2 separate regions of the Homo sapiens genome follow, and region 2 is linked to region 1. The links come from fine-mapping of genetic effects on gene expression. A gene starts in region 1. The other region holds a variant in brackets. All regions are shown on one strand. Distances are between the middles of the regions. Region 1 holds the start of CHUK-DT (CHUK divergent transcript). Region 2 overlaps BLOC1S2 (biogenesis of lysosomal organelles complex 1 subunit 2).

The links. PIP is the estimated chance that this variant, and not a neighbour inherited with it, causes the effect. A credible set is the group of variants that fine-mapping cannot tell apart.
Region 2: its variant is the best candidate, but not a certain one, in a credible set for the expression of CHUK-DT in thyroid (GTEx, PIP 0.56).

The regions. Positions count from the first base shown.
Region 1 is chr10:100,228,022-100,231,037 of GRCh38, forward strand. It overlaps CHUK-DT (CHUK divergent transcript), which reads left to right and starts at 1,639. Exons shown (of 4, transcript NR_186419.1): 1 at 1,639-1,703; 2 at 2,994-3,016. CHUK (component of inhibitor of nuclear factor kappa B kinase complex) reads right to left here and starts at 1,575. Exons shown (of 21, transcript NM_001278.5): 1 at 1,407-1,575. The coding sequence starts at 1,511. RefSeq lists silencers at 1,313-1,552, 2,622-2,884 and an enhancer at 1,663-1,712.
Region 2 is chr10:100,277,879-100,280,378 of GRCh38, forward strand. BLOC1S2 (biogenesis of lysosomal organelles complex 1 subunit 2) reads right to left here. Exons shown (of 5, transcript NM_173809.5): 4 at 2,246-2,350. Among named protein-coding and RNA genes, the nearest start is that of BLOC1S2, 7.6 kb to the right of the region's middle. The variant G/A (reference allele first, on the strand shown) is at 1,006.

The sequences.
Region 1 (3,016 bases):
AATGAGGAGCATTATGATCATAGCAGCAACAACAACAAAGTAGCAGCAGGTGCTAACAGTTGAGGGCTTTCATGGGTCAGGTACCGTATTTAGCTTTACACACATTACTATTTTATTTAACTCTCAAATCCATGATGCATGTAATTATTATACTATACTTACTTTACAGGCAACAAAACAAAGCCTATATTACAGGAATTATTAGTCCAGGGTCTATTTACCTAAAATGTCCTTTAGGAAGGCACGAACCTCTCAAATGGCAATGCATGGTTGTGTGAATGTGCATCTGTGCATTTTTCTGGGGAAAGGGTTCACAGCTTTTATCGGTATATCAAAAAATACATGTCCCAGGCCTGGTGCCGTGGCTCACGCCTATAATCTCTGCACTTTGGGAGCCTGAGACAGGTGGATCGCCTGAGGTCAGGAGTTCGAGACCAGCCTGGCCAACATGGTGAAACCCCGTCTCTACTAAAAATACAAAAAAATTAGCCAGGCACGGTGGCGGGCGCCTGTAATCCCAGCTACTCAGGAGGCTGTGGCAGGAGAATCGCTTGAACTCGGGAGGAGGAGGCTGCAGTGAGCCGAGATCGCGCCCTGCATTCCAGCCTGGGCGACAGAGTGAGACTCCGTCTCAAAAACAAAAACAAACAAACAAGACCCAAATATGATTTTTTAACTGCTACTACAATGGTTAAACATTCTCTATTAAATCAAAGTAAAATTCTTGAGTCTGATGTTAACTGTCCTCCACCTACTAGAGCGCCCCCCATCTCCATCTACTAATATAGCCTTTCGTTTGAAGCCATGCTCTGCACCAACTCACCCTCATACTGTCCCGACCTGGAATACATCCCCAATTCCAAAGCCCATCCATGCTTCCAAAGGCTTAACTCTGGACCCATCATGAAGCCTTCCTTGTCTACTCCAGTCCCCACTGATATCATATGGCCTCCAAGCGCGCGCGCGCGCGCGCACACACACACACACACACACACACACACACACGGACGCACACATTCCCAAAGGCAGTCCCCTTCAGCCCTCTTCTCACACATTCGTGCTCCTACATACACACTGTGACGTGCATCTGCCTCACACACCCTGACACTCCACATTCACAGAGACACACACGCACTGTCACACTCACTAAACACCTGGTCACAGCCTGACAGTCATACCCAAGTTCCCCGCAACAGCTCTATCTATGCCCAGTACCTCAAATACAACTTTGGACACACAGGCATAGTATCTTTCTCTCTAATACACACACACAAGCCCACTGGCCCCCAAATACTGCCCAAGGTCCCACCAACCATCTATCCCACACTGTCAGCCCTGTGTTCCACAGACGCTCAAACCCACCGCCGCTCCAACCCACCGCCGCTCCCTCTCACGCCCCGCCTCACCCGATGCTGGTACAGACAGACGTTCCCGAAGCCGCCGGTGCCCAGCCGCTCCCGCATCTCCCAGGGCCCGCCCGCGCCCGGCCGCAGCCCCGGGGGCCGCTCCATGGGGCGGGAGGGCAAGCGGCCTCAGGTTCCACAGTTGTTCCAAGGCCGGTTCCGGGCCGCCGATGCTCGCGCGTCTTTGTTCTCGCGAGAATGAATGCGTCACTTCCGGTAACCGCTGCGAGAAGGCCCTTCCCTAAGTTCTCCCAGGGCGCTGCCAGAGCCCTGCCGGCTAAGGGATGGGGAAACAAACAGGTACTCGGTCCGCTCTTTAAGTCCCCTACGTATTTTCCGGGAGGGCTGAACGGAACCACAATGTTTTTCTAGTCTTGGAAAACATAAGATCTCTCCAAACCCCACATTCCCGTCAAATCCACTTTTCAAAGCAGCCCAGTCTCTCCTGTATTTTTTTCTTTTTAATTAAGATGGGGTCTCGCTCCGTTGCCCAGGCTGGAGTGCAATGGCACGATCACGGCTCACTGCAGCCTCGACCTCCCGGAATTAAGCGATCTTCTCACCTCCCGAGTAGCTGGGATTGCAGGCGCGCACCACCTCGCTTGGCTAATTTTTTATTTTTTGTAGAGACATGGTCTTGCTACGTTGCCCAGGCTGGTCCCGAACTCCTGGTCTCAAGTAGTCCTCCCACCTTGGCATCCCAGAGTGCTGGGATTATAGACATGAGCCACCGCGTCCAGCAATTAGTCTTTTCTAAACTTCATATTGTCTCTACTCCTATCTACACTTCACCTTTCTTCAGATCCCTGCCATCTATCCTCCAACTCCACCACCAGCTGATCCGGCACGCTAAAGACCACCAATGATTTAAAGGCTGCGAAATCGTTAAAATACTACGCTAGCAGGCCCACTAATGAATTAGCCTTCTTGTTCACTGACTTCCCAATACACCTGCTCCAGGATATCCCCTGTCATCCCAAATGACTCAAGAATGTGACGCTATTCCGGAGTGAAGAGTGTTTCTCGGGATTTCGCGAGCTTTTTTCCTAGATGCCTCACAGAGCTTGCTGTCCGGCAGTCCAGTTATGGGTTTGCCAGCACAGTAGTTCATTGTGAGAAGTGTTTCTAATGGGTGCTACAGGGCTGCAGAGGCAAGCTTTGGGAATGCTGTTGGTGCAGCAAGTGCTTCCGGGTGGCGGATTGCCATAGCATAGGGGAAACAACTCCTGGTCTTCCATTTAAGAGGGTCATACCTTCACTGTACCTGGGGGATCTCAATACTCCAAGTAAAGGAATCAGCATGGAATCAAATTATTGATAAATGTGATGCTGCAACCAGAATGTTGAGCACTGCATGATACAGACGAAGTCGATGTTGTAGGTCATTAGTAACATGTGGTATGGGAGGTTCTGGTTTCTGTAAGTGCATGGTTTCCATGGACTTGGAGATGATGATGCCTCTGAGGACATGTCATTTAGAGCTGGGCAGACCGCACAGAGAATTGTGGTACAGATTGTTGTAACAGTATGAAGCCCTCTCATTTGCTGTATGTACAGCATGGCCAGTGCTAATGTGCTCAATTTCCGTAGGTGGGGCTGTAATCTCGTAATTC
Region 2 (2,500 bases), 50 kb after region 1:
GGTGGGGGGGTCAGCCCCCCGCCTGGCCAGCCGCCCCGTCCGGGAGGTGAGGGGCGCCTCTGCCCGGCCGCCCCTACTGGGAAGTGAGGAGCCCCTCTGCCCGGCCAGCCGCCCTGTCCGGGAGGGAGGTGAGGGAATCAGCCCCCCGCCCGGCCAGCCGCCCCGTCCGGGAGGGAGGTGGGGGGCTCAGCCCCCCGCCGGGCCAGCCGCTCCGTCCGGGAGGGAGGTGGGGGGGCGGTCAGCGCCCCCTCCCGGCCAGCCACCCCGTCTGGGAGGGAGGTGGGGGGGTCAGCCCCCTACCCGGCCAGCCGCCCCGTCCGGGAGGGAGGTGGGGGGGTCAGCCCCCCGCCTGGCCAGCCACCCGGTCCAGGAGCTGAGGGGCGCCTCTGCCCGGCCGCCCCTACTGGGAAGTGAGGAGCCCCTCTGCCCGGCCACCACCCCGTCTGGGAGGTGTACCCAACAGCTCATTGAGAATGGGCCATGATGACGATGGCGGTTTTCTGGAATAGAAAAGGGGGCAAGGTGGGGAAAAGATTGAGAAATCGGATGGTTGCCGTGTCTGTGTAGAAAGAAGTAGACATGGGAGACTTTTCATTTTGTTCTGTACTAAGAAAAATTCTTCTGCCTTGGGATCCTGTTGATCTATGACCTTACCCCCAACCCTGTGCTCTCTGAAACATGTGCTGTGTCCACTCAGGGTTAAATGGATTAAGGGCGGTGCAAGATGTGCTTTGTTAAACAGATGCTTGAAGGCAGCATGCTCGTTAAGAGTCATTACCACTCCCTAATCTCAAGTACCCAGGGACACAAACACTCTGCCTAGGAAAACCAGAGACCTTTGTTCACTTGTTTGTCTGCTGACCTTCCCTCCACTAGTGTCCTATGACCCTGCCAAATCCCCCTCTGTGAGAAACACCCAAGAATGATCAATAAAAAAAAAAAAAGGCCTGTGATTCCAGCTACTTGAGAGGCTGAGGTGGGAGGATTGCTTAAGGCCATGAGTTC[G/A]AGACCAGCCTGGGCAACACAGCAAGGCCTTGTTTCAAAAACAATTTTTTTAAAGTAGCTGGATGTGATGGTGCACACCTGTAGTCCCAGGTACTCAGGAGGCTGAGGAAGGAGGATCACTAGAGCCCAGGAGTTCAAGGCTACAGCGAGCTATGATCACGTCATTGCACCCTAGCCTGGGTGACACAGCAAGACCTCATCTCTTATAGAAAAAAAAAACAAAACAACAACAACAAAAAACCCACTAAATTCTTTACTTTTAACCATGTATGTAAGAGCCAGAGCCAGTTAGCAAACCACTAGTACTAAAAATACTAGTTTCTTCCTCAAAGGAAAAGTGATCTTTCAAGAAAATCCTCAACTGACTATTCATTTAAGACATATTTATCTACATTATTAAAGGTGCTTCTGCTTTCTCAACTACAAATAAGAACTTGAGCTTTGTAAGCAAACAGACCTGCTTAGAAATATGGCTCTTCCCTGTACTGGCTTAGTGTCCTTAAGCAACTTACTTATCCCCTTAAACCAGTTTCCTTGCCTACAAAATGAGGATAAAAATCATGTACTTGAACCAGATGTGGTGGCTCACACCTATAATCCCAGCACTTTGGGAGGCTGAGGCGGGCGGATCACGAGGTCAGGAGTTCAAGACCAGCCTGGCCAACATGGTGAAACCTCGTCTCTACTAAAAGTACAAAAAAAAATCATGTACTTACCTCACAGATTATTGGGAAGATAAAAAACATAATACAGGCCAGGCCGAGGTGGGCAGATCACTTGAGGTTGGGAGATCGAGACCAGCCTGACCAACATGAGAGACCCTGTCTCTACTAAAAATACAAAATTAGCCAGGCGTGGTGGCGCGCCTGTAATCCCAGCTACTCGGGGGGCTGAGGCAGGAGAATCGCTTGAACCCAGACCCAGGAGGCGGAGGTTGCGGTGAGCCGAGATCGCACCATTGCACTCCAGCTTGGGCAACAAGAGTGAAACTTGTCTCAAAAAAAACAAACCAAAAACAAAAACCAAACATAATACATGTAAAGCACTAAGAACAGTGCCTGATATATCATTAAGTAATCAGGAAATGTTATTTTTATTAATATAATAATAAATTACTAAGGTTTTGTGAAGATTAATAGATCACTGTAGGCACACCATAAATGTTAACTATTATGTTTACTAAGAATATGCTGGCAAGAAGCAGTCTTTATTACATCAAAACAGAAGTAAAAACGGTTACCCAGTTTTTTTGAATATGCATCCAACTTGTAAGCTGCCTGCTCAAGAGCTGCTACCTGCTCTTCAATGACATTGATCTGATCCAGATAAGGCTGCAGTCCAGCATCTTTAAAAACAAAGAAAAACTTCATGTTTATATGGCTTTATTAACAAAGAATATAGGAAAAGAGTGGAAAAGTAATAATGCTAGTGTCTCTCCAGCTATGCTAAGACAGATTAGGTGGCGTGACATGATTCTGAGCACTAGCAGGGCAGA